2 linked regions of the Homo sapiens genome follow. The protein of the gene in region 2 purifies or fractionates together with the protein of the main gene of each other region. This does not show direct contact. Each region holds a gene or a part of one and is shown on either strand. Other genes may lie near its edges.

The links. The genes of interacting proteins can lie anywhere in the genome.
Region 1: the proteins of TEX28 (region 2) and SARAF purify together in Homo sapiens (co-immunoprecipitation; 3 studies listed by BioGRID and IntAct, with this or other methods). This does not show direct contact.

The regions. Positions count from the first base shown.
Region 1 is NC_000008.11:30,073,065-30,080,100, forward strand, and holds part of SARAF (store-operated calcium entry-associated regulatory factor isoform 1 precursor), read right to left. Parts: intron 992-7,036; coding exon 813-991; intron 1-812. UniProt on the Homo sapiens protein: Negative regulator of store-operated Ca(2+) entry (SOCE) involved in protecting cells from Ca(2+) overfilling.
Region 2 is NC_000023.11:154,271,091-154,278,126, forward strand, and holds the end of TEX28 (testis-specific protein TEX28), read right to left. Parts: intron 1,437-7,036; coding exon 1,301-1,436; intron 682-1,300; coding exon 325-681; 3' UTR 175-324; downstream 1-174.

The DNA.
Region 1 (7,036 bases), on a different chromosome or scaffold from region 2:
TAGCAGTACTGGGGGAAAATATTGTGAAGTAAGTATCACCCAGTACACATCAACTTCCTCTCTGAATTGCAAAGACCACGCATAAAGGTTGTATCAAACAAGAATATCATTCTGATGGAGAGGGGAAATCGTCAACATAAGTTTCTTGCCTTGTGACCAGTCGTCTTAAATCAATTTTGAAAGCAGTCAGAATACAAAGTAGAAATATGTAACTAGTGATTTAAACTGAATTCATTTAATAAAATCTATCTCTAAAGCATATTCAGTTTTGGAACTTCAAGGAGATGCTCTGCTCGTATACAAAACACCAGCGTCCCAAAGGCAATCAATGAAACCTGCCGAAATGCTTCCTTTCAAAAGTAACCACCCTCAGTTCTAAGACAATTTTAAAATCAAGTGCTAGAAGCACAATAGAGATATATGAACCCCTACTATTTACGATCTATAATTCCTAATTATCTTAACTTTGTCTTAAGGGTAGGTTGGTATTCTTTGAGGAACGACAGGAAAATGACAACCATAAGATATCCCCTATCCCTCACCCTCAAGTATATAAAAAGTTGTGAAAATTTACAAATATCTTAGAAGGAGGTCACGATACAAAAACTAAAATGAGTATTTTCAGGCTTTAAAATCAGTTCATTTCTTTTGGAGGCCATTTCTTCCACAGGAAGAGTGATTGATTTACTTACATATTTTAGGCTGATCTGAGATTTCCGTAGGTGCACCCTCAAAAGACTGAATAATGTCCCAATAAACAATTTACTGAATAAAAACCCCATTTAGACTGCCATTACTGTAGTGGATATTACCTGTACATCATACCCATCCCAGCCTTTGTTCTGACACTGTATGACTTTTGGGGTATAAGAATCACAACCAGCTGTGCCTCCAACACATTTCAACTGTGGGATGGGATCCAGCCTGCGGGAGGTGGTATAGCGGTCATAGTGGAGGGTAAGAGCTTTTACATCCCGCAGCAACATTCTGTCTGAAACAGCAAGAAAACAGAGGAACACAAAGTAAGTATCGTGTCAGAGAAAGAAAGGTTCATCCTAACGAAACTCTCGTCATAGGAAATGCCTTTCTTGCCTTCTGAGGATGGCTAAGAGAGGATGAATCTATTTCTCAAAACTATCCCAACAACATTCAGGCCTTCTGAACAAAATTCAGGTCACACTTTTAAGATCTCCCTGCATTTCAGGCCAGATGCTTCTACAGCACAAGTTGTACATCATTTTTGCTAAATCAAAAGAACAAAAAGTTCATTAACCTGAAACATTGTACTACTGTGTAATAATAATAGTGGTTAATTAAAATGGCAAGAATATAAGCATGTTCCTGAAGCACATTTAATGCTTTAAATGTCCATCAACAGGTGAAGAAATTAACACATTCTGACCTATTACAGTGGAATATTACATAGCAGTTAAAATGAGTGAACTAGAATTCATGTATCAAACTAGATAGATGGCAAAAACATTTTAAACAAAATACAAGTTGCAGAATGTTTTGTATGACAGCTTTACATAAACCTTTAAAAAAGGCAAAACAGTACTACATACTGTTAATGTCTATATATGTATATAATAACAACATGAAAACATGTATGGGAAGGATTTAACACCAAATTCAAATAAGTATCTAGTCTAGGGAGAGAGAAAGAAAAGAGATTTTAGCTCTATTCCTAATGTTTTATTACTGGGAGTGGGGGATTTGTAGCAAATATGGCAAAATATAAAGATTCAATAAAACTGGGTGATGACTATGTGTAGGTTCATTGTACACTTCTGTATGTTTAAATACTTTAGGTATTTCATAATTTTAAAAATCAAAACTATTTAAACTATTTCACAAACTAAAAAATTTAAAACATACTGACAAGAGACTTTGAAAGGAGGAGTCAAAACAATAAAATTATGTCTGGCATTCATGTGCAAAAATGAAATTTTTAGGTTGGGTGTGGTGGCTCACACCTGTAATCCCAGCACTTTGGGAGGCCGAGGCACGTGGATCACCTGAGCTCAGGAGTTCGAGACCAGCCTAGCCAACACGGCGAAACCCCATCTCTACTAAATATACAAAATTAGCCGGGAGTGGTGGCACATGCCTGTAATCCCAGCTACTTGGGAGGGTGAGGCAGGAGAATCGCTTGAACCTGGGAGGAGGAGGTTGCAGTGAGCCAAGATCACACCATTGCACTCCAGCCTAGGCAACAAGAATGAAACTCCATCTCAAAAAAAAAAAAAAAATGAATTTCTATGCATTATTGGAAAATAAGGACAAAGTCTTCCTATTTATCATGTTGTGGATTATTGATGGAAGATGCTGTGGATTGGCTCAGTCAACATCCACTTCACCCTCAAACAGGTATGCCTTCCTGCAAAGCAAAAGGAATCCCAAAACCTCTTGCAGCTATAGTTGCCAAAAGCAATTTCAGTTCTGCCAACCAGAGGGACTCGAGCAAAATCTGGAAAGCAGACCCTAGACTTATACAGTGCTCTGTCCTTCAGCTAGTAAACACAGGCATGGAGACCATGAGTTTTCAAACTGATAGTATCCTCTAATCAGCTTCCTGGCTGTCATGAAGCTTGACATGAACAATCTATTTTTCAATGTGGCAGATGTAATAGGCATCGCTTTCTACCATTTTGTGAGTACCCAATTCCCTATATTCAACCTGTCAGATTAGCAGAATTTGCAGCCTCCCAAAATTCTACTAAAACTATAATAAATACATTGTTTTGATGATGTGAATGACTGTGGTCAGGTAAAACGAAAGAGGAGATGACAGCAGAATTTTGGAAGGAGAAAGTAAATGGACTAGTGGTAGATGACTAGACCTAAGTGAAAGACAAATGCCAGAACAGCAAAGGGGGAAACTGAGAATCAACCTGATGTACATAACAGAATCCCTAAAAAAAAACAAAAAAAAAAAAACAAAAAACGGGAAATGGCAGCTCTGGAATGGGAGATGCCTGGAATACACACTACAGGGTGAAAGCTACTTGAGAGGAAGCCATATTCCCAGATCCTCTCCCCAACTCCACACTGTTCTAACTCCCTCTTCCCCACTAAGGAAACTGTCTGGAGATGTATTCTCTGGAGAGGATAAAACTGAAGGGATTTGCATTGGGGACCATCTGGCATAGTAAAGGGCATGGGGACAAAAACAACCAAACAGGGAACCCAAGTGACTGTGTGCACTCTGACTGCTGAAAGCACAGTTCTCCTTCCCCACATGGTGCACAAAATGCTAACAGCCATCCCCTTGTCCTCTGTGGGAGACTGGATGACTATTCCCTTGGTAATCTAACCAAGAAGAAGTACCTAAATACACTGACATCAGGAACTTCCTCCAAAAAAGAGCAACCTAGGTCACCCTGTTGTGAAGTTCAAAATCAAAAGTGCAACTGCACACTGATAGCTTCCAATGAGCTTTTTGGTTCCCCAGAATTAACCATGAGCAGGGAGCCAAGGATTACTAAAAATATGAGGAAAGTCCCTGCTATGGTTTGAATGTGTCCCCCAAAGTTCACATGTTGGAAACTTAATCCCCAATGCAACAGTGTTGAAAGATGGAATCTTTAAGAGGGCTCTGCCCTCATGAATAGATTAATGCTGTTCTTGCAGGACTGGGTTAGTTATCGCAGGAGTGGACTCCTGATAAAAGGATGAGTTAGGCCCCTTTCCCCTCTCTCACTCTCTCCCTTCTGCCTTCCACCATGGGATGACACAGCAAGAAGGCCCTCACCAGATGCTAGCACCTTAATATTGAACTTCTCAGCCTCCAGAACTGTGAGAAATGAATTCAGTTTTTTAATAAATTTCCCAGTCTGTGGTATTGTGTTACAGTAACATTAAACAGACAAAACAGCCCCTAACATGAAATACAGCAACCAGGACAAAACAACAACAAAAGGAAGCAGGAGGAAAAAAGAGATGACGCACAAGAAGAAAACTTTTTTAAAAACACTGTAATATCCTCAGAGAGATAAGAGAAAAAGACTGCGTTAATAAAACAATCATTTTTAAAAGGGATACTCAGAGAAAAAACAAGAGCTTTTGGAAATTAAAAACAGGACAGCCAAGATTAAAAACAACAGAACTGCCAGGTGCAGTGGCTCATGCCTGTAATCCCAGCACTTTGGGAGGCCAAGGCAAGCAGATCACTTGAGCCCAAGAGTTTAAGACCAGCCTAAGCAACATGGCAAAACCCTGTCTCTACAAAAAAAATTATAACATTAGCCAGGTATGGTGGCACACACCTGCAGTCCCAGCTACTTAGAAGGCTGAGGTGGGAGAATCACCTGAGCCTGGGGAGGTCGAGGCTGCAGTGAGCCATGCACTCCAGCCTGGGTGATAGAGTGAGACCCTGTCACAAAACATAAATAAATAAATACATACATACGACAGAACTGTTAAAAGAAAATCTTCTAGAAAGTAGAGCAAAAAGAGGCCGGGCGTGGTGGCTCATGCCTGTAATCCTAGCACTTTGGGAGGCCGAGGCAGGTGGATCACGAGGTCAAGAGATCAAGACCATCCTGGCGAACACGGTGAAACCCCGGCTCTACTAAAAATACAAAAATTAGCTGGGGATGGTGGCGCGTGCCTGTAGTCCCAGCTACTCGGGGGGCTGAGGCAGGAGAATTGCTTAAACCCAGGAAGCAGAGGTTGCAGTGAGCCAAGATTGTGCCACTGCACTCCAGCCTGGCGATAGAGCAAGGCTCCATCTGAAAAAAAAAGGAAAAAGAAAAAAGAAAGTAGAGCAAAAAGATAGAAAGTAGGAGAGAAAGGCTGGGCACAGTGGCTCACGTGTGTAATCCCAGCACTTTGGGTGGCCGAGGCAGGCAGATCACAAGGTCAGGAGTTCGAGACCAGTCTGGCAAATATGGTGAAACCCCGTCTCTACTAAAAATACAAAAATTAGCCAGGCATGGTGGCGGGCACCTGTAATCCCAGCTACTCAGGAAGATGAGACAGGAGAATCGCTTGAACCCGGGAAGCAGAGGTTGCAGCGAGCCGAGATGGTGCCACTGCACTCCAGCCTGGGGGACAGAGCTAGACTCCGTCTCAAAAAAAAAAAAAAGAAAGAAAGAAAAAAGACAGTAGGAGGAAAAAAAAAAAAAAGAAAGAAAGAAAATTACCAGTTCAGGACCAGTTCAGAAAGTCCAAAAATCCAACAAGGGCTTCTGAAAGAATGAACAAGGGAATCTGATTAGACAAACTCCAGGCTGTAATTCAAGAAAAGTTCCCACACTGAAGGACTTGAGTTGTCATACTGAAAGGGCCCAACAAATACCCAGGCCTGAGAAACAGACCACACAAAGGCACACGAAAAGTAAATTTTAGAACACTGAAGACAAAAAAAGATTCTACAAATTGCCAGAAGAATAGGGAGAAAACAAGCCATATAGAAAAGATAAGACTTAGAAAAGCTTCAGGTATCTCAACAGGATAGAAAAAGAAAATGGAGAAATATATTCAAAAACTCTAAAGGAAAAAGTCTGGCTGGGTTTGCCAACCATCGCTTTGCTAATGGTGGAACAAACTGATGTTACAACATCTCCTATGATGTATTTCCCACAAGTATTTAATATGAATCTAATCAATCTAATAAACTTAAGGTCAATACCCTATCTATATAAAAAATATATATAGAGAGAGAGACCTAAATATACTTCCAACCAGGAACCCAATAGGGTTTTTTGGGGAAAGAAATTATGTTAAAGGTCCTGTGGACAATTTTTTTTTGAAAAAGAACACATAGGTTACCAGATAGTAAAGGTTACTATAAAATTATTATCATCAGCCAGGCACGGTGGCTCACGTCTGTAACCCCAGCACTTTGGGAGGCCAAGGAGGGCAGATCACCTAAGGTCAGGAGTTCGAGATCAGCCTGGACAACATGGTGAAACCCCATCTCTACTAATAATACAAAAATTAGCTGGACGTGGTGGCATACGCCCGTAGTCCCAGCTACTTGGGAGGCTGAGGCAGGAGAATCACTTGAATCCAGGAGGTGGAGGTTGCAGTGAGCTGATATTGCTACCACTGCACTCCAGCCTGGGCGACAAGAGTGAAACTCCATCTCAAAAAAAAAAAAAAAAAAAAAGATTATAATCAAAATAGTAGGGAATTGGAACAGAGACAAGGAAATTGTGAAACAAAAGAAAGATCAGAAATAAATCAAGATACATTTGGGAATTCAGTAAGATGAAGTGGTCTTTTTAATTTAGTGGATAAAAGATGTCTTCTTTAATAAATAGCACTGGCATAATTGACTATGCAGCCACAAGAAAATCCACCTAAAGCTATATAAAAATTTAATTCCACATGGGCTACAGATCTAAAATTTCCAAGAACTATATTCAAATAAACCATGCTACATTAAACACAAACTACTACCTCCTCATACATAAAAAATAAGACAATGAAAATGTTCAATGGTTTAGAAAAATCAGACTGTATTAATCAACTAAATAACAGAAATAATAAATTGAATTTATTGTAACAGAGTTGCAATAATGCAAAGAACACTGAACTAAGTTGGTGTCACTAACTGGCTGTGACTTTGGCCAAGGCATTTAATTTACCTGTGTAGAAGTTTCCTCACCTACAAAATTAAAATATTATCAACCTTGAAATTTGTTGTGAAGCTTAGATATAATTTATTATCTGGCTGAGTACTTGAAGCATAACAGGTGATCAGGTATGATAAATATTACTGAAAGTTTTAAGATGGAATAGCATTACCATAATCCTATAGCATCTTTCTTCCCTAGAGATTCTTAAGGTCCAAGAACAAAATTCTAATACCCACGCCCCACTAGTTAGATCAGTCAAGGGACACAGGAGCTCCCTGAACTCCAGACTCATAAATCAAAATCACGGCAGGTCTCAAACAAGATAAACAAAACCAAACTCCCCTAAACCTGATCATCCCACATTCTTCCACATCTCAGGAAATGGTTAACTCCATGCTTCTAGTTGCTCAAGCCAAAAACCTTGGACTTCTCATCTTCTCTCCTCTCAC
Region 2 (7,036 bases):
CAAAGTCACAGAGGCTTTCACTGCAGTGTGGGACCACCTGAGCCTCTGCGTGTGCAGGCACTGGGTCTCGAGAGGGTGCAAGGGGGATAAAGAGGAGAGAGCGCTTCATAGACTTTAAGTTTTCCCGAGCCTCATGTCTACCGATGGCGTGAAAGGATCCTGGCAAAACAGAAGTGTGAGGCAGGTGGGCGTCTATATCCATTTCACCAGGCTGGTGGTTACATAATCGGCAAGCAAGAGCTGTGGAGGGGCTTGCTGGATGCCCTCAGCACCCAGGAGGAGGGAGGGAGCTAGCAAGCTAAGGCAGGTGGCCCTCCTGGCCCCTTAAGGTCCATCTGCTGGAGGCCCAGAGTCCTTGGAGTACAGTCTACACCTGGAGGGGACCCATTCCTGCCAGTCTGTGGCAGGGATGGCGCGCCACCTCTGCCAGGCCAGGACCCCAAGCCCGATCAGCATCAGCATGGTGCAGGTGCACAGGCGTGAGCTGATCAGTGACGAGGGGCAGGCACACAAGGTGGAGACAAAGACCAAGAGGACGGTTGCCAGTGAGAGGCGCGGACTCAGGAACTTGAACAACATCTGCGGGGGACGGCTTTGGAGGTGCTCCGCTGCCTCCAGTTGGGTGACTTGCTGTAGCATCTCCAGCTTGGATATTCGGCTCTTGAAGGTCTCCGTGATCTCCTGCAGGAGACGAAAATGCACGCACCAGAAGTCAGCACAGAGTTGTGGTCGTTTATTGAGTTCTTAGGGGTGAGCAGAAAGCACTGTGGAGTGGGTATTCGAGGAGGGAAGCAGAGAGCCTAGAGCACATTCAGGGCAGAGGGGAGGGCGCAGGCTCTCCAGCAACAGGGAAAGCTTCATCTGACCCGGCTGCACTCCCCCATCCACTGTCTCCCGAAGCTGAGGACCTGGTCAAGACACAGCTACCCAGGGACGGGGGTGGGCGCTATGGGAATGGAAAAGTGAGGAGAGGGAAGCCAGGTCTAAGGAGGGGTTCTGAGAGGGCGCTCCCTACACCTGCAGCCGCAGCAGAAGCAGCTCCACCCCAGATCTCCCGAGTCAGAGGCTCACGGGTGAGCACTGCAGCACCAGAGTGGCAAAAGCAGCTAAGCCAGATGGTGGGAAGCGGAGCGTGAGTGTAAAGATCAGATGCTGCTAGCTCTGAAACAAATGTGTGTGGCCATCGAACCCTCAGGAGGGGGCAGCTCGAGGACCCGTGTCTTGCTTTGGTTTGGGGGTATCAGAATAGATTCGCTCATCCCTCCAGTCTTCTTGCAAGGCTCCCCCAGGAGGTTCTCACCCATATTTCCTTGGCTCTCTCATAGGATAGATAGGCCATTCTCTCTTCGCTGCAGGCCAGATTGTGTTTGAGGTTGTAAATCTCATTCAGCTGTCCCTGCAGGCGACCATTCACCTGTTCTTCCATCAATGCTTGCCTTGGGAGCAAAAGAGAAAGTGAGATTCCTTCAGTACCTCATCCAGAGCTCATGCCAACAGCGAGCGGTCCTGACCTAGACTAGATTCGGGTTCAGCTTCTGCCTTCCTCCCCGCTCCCCAGGCTCTAGGGAAAGCCTGCCTCCCACTCCAGGTCTGCCTGGGAACACCCCAAACACACACCAGCCACACGCACACCAATATTCATATATATTTTATATGTAGTTACTCTTTTGTAACAGCTTTACAAAAATAGCCACAGACTAGAAGTTGTAGAAATGACAGTGTGAACTATCTGTGTGTGCTCTTCAGTTCCGCAAATCCCCCAGGACCAGTGTTGAGCACGAAGTCTAGCCTGCAGTTTAGCCTGCAGTTACTCTATAGAAACATGGTGACTATAAGGATTGAAAAGCCACAAAAGACCACAGATTCCAGTACAATTCCATTAGTTACGAAATGTCCAGAATAGGCAAATCCATAGAGACAGAAAGCAGATTAGTGGGTGCCAGGGGCTGGGGGTGGGGGATGGGCAGTGGCTGCTAATGAGTACAGGGTTGCTTTGGGGCTGGTGAAAATATTGTAGGACCGGGCACGGTGGCTCACGCCTGTAATCCCAGCACTTTGGGAGGCCAAGGCGGGCGGATCATGAGGTCAGGAGATCGAGACCATCCTGGCTGACACGGTGAAACCCCGTCTGTACTAAAAATACAAAAAAAATTAGCCGGGCGTGGTGGCGGACGCCTGTAGTCCCAGCTACTCGGGAGGCGGAGGCAGGAGAATGGCGTGAACCCGGGAGGCGGAGCTTGCGGTGAGCAGAGTTCACACCACTGCACTCCAGCCTGGGCGACAGAGCGAGACTCCGTCTCAAAAAAAAAAAAAAGAGAATATTGTGGAATTAGATAGTGGTGATGGTTGAACAACTCTGTGACTATACGAAAAACCAGTGAATTGTACACTTTAAATTGGTGAATTTTATGGGATGTGAATTATATCTCAATAGAGCCGTTATTTAAACAAAAAGAGAAAAGTGAATCATGGCAATAGTTGCGCAACTCAGTAAATTTACTAAAAACCATTGAAATGTAGTTAAAATGGTGCATTTTATAATATGTAAATTATATCTCAATAGAGCTGTTAAAAAACCACAAGCAGGCCAGGCGCAGTGGTTCACAGTTGCAATCCCAGCGCTTTGGGAGGCCAAGGCAAGGGGATTGTTTGAGGCCAGGAGGAATTCAACACCAGCCTGGGCAACACAGTGAGACCCTGTCTCTACAAAAAAAATTTTTAATTATCTGGGTGTGGTGGCACGTGCCTGTAGTCTCAGCTACTCTGGAGGCTGAGGCAGGAGGACCTCTTGAGTCCGGGAGTTCGAGGCTGCAGTGAGCTGCCATCACGCCACTGCACTCCAGCCTGGGCAGCAGAGTGAGACCCTATCTCTAAAAGAAAACAATCACTACCTGTTGTGTATATAATTATATAAGTAGTAAAAGTATAAAACCATGCATGGAAAAGATAAGCACCCAAATGAGAATGGTGAGGCCAGTATAGCAAGGCCAGAATAGCAAGGAAGGGAGATGGTGCTGGAAAGGGGTAATGAGGGCTTCAACAGAATATTTTAAAGTTTTATTTCCTAAAAAAATAAGATTTGAAGTGAATATGGCAAATGTTAAGATTTCAGAAAGCTGGGGCTGTTAATTATGTTATCCTTACATTTTCCCTTTGCTTGAAATACTTCATAATTTAAAAACTTCTATGAAGTTCCCCTTTTGGCACCACAAAGAACGGGCCAGAAGGACAGAGGCCAGGGGGCCAGTGAGGGGGCTCTGGCACCACCGCTTACGTAGAAGAGAGAAGGCACCAGAGCGTGATGGAACCCATAGACTGGCAGGGCTGCCGCCCCAGGAGGCCCAGGAGGGTGGCGGCAGGCCTCAGGTGCAGGAGGTCTAAACGGTGGTGCTGACAGAGACGGGGAAAACAGTGACGACTTCTATTCGGTCCCACTCCAAGGACTTGACCAACACCCACACGGAGAAATCCCCCGGGCACTGAATAAGCTGACAGCTCATTTGTTGAAAGCCAATTTGTCAAAAGCTGGTTCCTCGCAGCATTTCAAGGAATATTCCATTTGTCTCTGCCCCAGGTCCCTGTTAAGAAGAGAGTCGGTGGACAACATGGACTAGGCCACTGCTCACAGAGAGGGGGAGTGGGTCGGCAGGATGGTCACCCCGAAAATAGATTCCTCATTACTGTCTTTCCATTTACATGAATGATCTAGCTGTGAGAACATTCAAGATTTTAACTGTCCTCAGGAATATGAAGTCAATCTTCATCAATGTATTGGTAAAGATACATGAAGATATTCTTCAGTGCATTCTTGAAGAGTCTCTTCAGATGTCAGTAAACAATATTTTCATAAGGATATTCTCTCAGTCTCCCCTTCTCTCTGGCCCCCATCTCCTGGCCCTCTGGCAGCCGCGCTCCCTTCTCTTCCTTGGTCAAGGACCCCCCTCTCTCCACCTCCTACAGTCACAGAAGCAAATGGACAACTCTGGAGAATGCTCTTATGAACACAAAACGATGACCAGTCAACCCAGACACCCTCAAGACAGACCGAAGGTGTTAAGACCACCCTCTCCAACACAAAGTGTTCTAAACTTTATTGTTTTTTTCAAAATAGTGTTGTTGTTTTTTTTTTTTGAGACGGATCTCCTTCTATTTGCCCAGGCTGGAGTGCAGTGGCACGATCTTGGCTTGCTGCAACCTCCGCCTCCCGGGTTCAAGTGATTTTCCTGCCTCGGCCTCCTGAGTAGCTGGGACTACAGGTATGCGCCATCATGCCGGGCTAATTTTTTGTATTTTTAGTAGAGACAGGGTTTCACCATGTTGGCCAGGCTGGTCTCCAACTCCTGACCTCAGGTGACCCGCCTGCCTCGGCCTCCCAAAGTGCTGGGATTACAGGTGTGAGCCATTGGGCCCAGCCAGAAAGAGTATATTCTTGGTCATTTCTGAGAATTTGCTTTTGGCAAATTGAGCTAGAGCCTAATCATGGCCCACAACTTGGAGGAAAAGTCTGAGACGGAGAAACAGCTGTAGGAGGGGTCAATAGCCCAGGTGCAATCGGTGCATGTGGCCAGGATGGATGAGCTCACTCTGAGCAAATGTGCCAAAGCAAGGGGCCCTGGGGAGCTGGGGGAAGAGCCAACAAAACAGAAGCGAAAGCAGGAGGAAATTCGCCAGGACGGCTCACACAGGAACCCAGAGGATGTAGGGATACAGTGGAAAGGTTGAACATACATGTAACTGGGGCCTTAGAAGGGGAAAAATGAGAGACTAGGGCAGAGTCACTATTTGAAAATATAATGGCTGAAAACGTCCAAAACTGACAAAAGACATCAAGCCATAAACCCAAGTAGCAATGCGAAGCCCAAGCAGGATGAATGCAAAGAAAATCACACCAAGGGGAGAGTCAGCGGCACAAAAAAGAAGAGAGAAAGAAAATCACGCCAAACATCATCATAGCAAAACCACTAAACAACAAAGAAAAACAAAAGATCTTAAAAGGAGCCTGAGGAAAACAAAACTGTGATCCGAGGAGCAACAAGAAGACTGGCAGCTGCCTTTTCAACAGAAACCATGGAAGTCAGAAGGGAATGATTTGTTCAAAATGCTTATTATTTCCAAAAATTAAGTGCCAACTTAGAATTCTATGTCCAGCAAAAAATATCCTTCAGGGCCGGGTGTGGTGGCTCACGCCTGTAATCCCAGCACTTTGGGAGGCCGAGGCAGGCAGATCACGAGGTCAGGAGTTCAAGACCAGCCTGGCCAACATGGTGAAACCCCGTCTCTACTAAAAATACAAAAACTAGCCGGGCGTGGTGGCACATGCCTGTAATCCCAGCTACTGAGGAGGCTGAGGCAGGGGAATCGCTTGAACCTGGGAGGCAGAGGTTGCAGCGAGCCGAGATCTCACCATTGCACTCCAACCTGGGTGACAGGGTGAGGCTCTGTCTCACAAAAAAAAAAAAAAGAATTCCTTCAGAAATAAAAAGGAATGATGGCATGTGTGAGGCAATAAGGTGACAGTGACTGCATATTTAACATTGTGGACTTGTTTTAAAACATTTTTGGTATGGTATTTAGGCTATGTTAACAAAATGATCCATATTTCAGGTTCACACTGAAATATTTACAGATGAACTGATATAATGTCTGTGCTTTGCTTCAACGCAATAGGGATGAGAGGAACCAGTTCAGAGAGCAGATCAGACCTTAGGTCAGACCTCCTCAGAGATCCCAAGATGCAGGATGCTGTGACATGGAGGAGAAGTCGGGGAAAAAATGGAAGTTAACACGACCCCAGCCTGCAACAAAGCCCTAAGCAGATACCTTGAGGAAAGTCAGCCCGAGGCTGGATCCCTGGGGCTGAGAGGTCACAGAGCAACACTGAAGCCTCTAGGAACCATAGCCTGTTATCTCCAAGCCTCGTCTGAAAGCGAAACATACCAGAACAGTCTTGGGACAGAGGAGCTAGGGTCTGGATGCCCCCAAGGACCTCGTGTCCAGGAGGGAAAGAAAAACATGGAGACCTGGCATATTCACTTCCGGGCGTTTTCAATATGACAGGAGGCTATAAGAAAATTTCACGACTGCCCACTTGTGGATACAGCCAGAAATACAAAGCAAGAGTGAAAGTTTTGCCTACTCGGCACCTGAGTAGCTTCTTTTTTATTCAATTTTTATTGAGGTAAATTTCATGTAACATAAAATGAATTATTTTAAGGTGAACAATTCAGCGGCATTTAGCACATGTGGTGTTGTGCAACCACCATGGCTATTAATAGTTCCAAGACATTGGCCGGCTGCAGTCATGCCTGTAATCCCAGCACTTTGGGAGGCCGAGGCGGGCGGATCACGAGGTCAGGAGATCGAGACCATCCTGGCCAACACGGTGAAACCCCGTCTCTACTAAAATATGCAAAAATTAGCTGGGCGTGGTGGTGCATGCCTGTAATCTCAGCTACTCAGGAGGCTGAGACAGGAGAATCACTTGAATCCGGGACGCAGAGGTTGCAGTGAGCTGAGATCAAGCCACTGCACTCCCTCCAGCCTGGGCAGCAGAGCAAGACACCACCTCAAAAAAAAAAAAAAGCCATTAACAACTTTCTTTCTTTCTTTCTTTCTTTCTTTCTTTCTTTCTCTTTTTCTTTCTCTCTCTCTCTCTCTCTCTCTCTCTCTCTCTCTCTCTCTCCCTCTCTCTCTCTCTCTCTCTCTCTCTCTCCTCTCTCTCTCTCTCCTCTCTCTCTCTCTCTCTTTCTGTTTTTTTTTTTGAGACAAGTTCTCACTCTGTCCTCTATCACCCAGGCTGGAGCACAGTGGCACAATCATAGTTCACTGCAACATAAAACTCTCGGGCTCAAGCGATCCTCCTGTCTCAGCCTCCCATGTAGCAGGGACTACAGGCATGTGCCACCAAGTCCGGTTAACACTTTTAAAATTTTTTGCAGAGATATGGTCTCACTTTGTTACCCAAGCTGGTCTCAGACTCCTGGGCTGAAGCAATCCTCCTGCCTCGACCTCCCAAAGCACTGGGATTACAGCCATA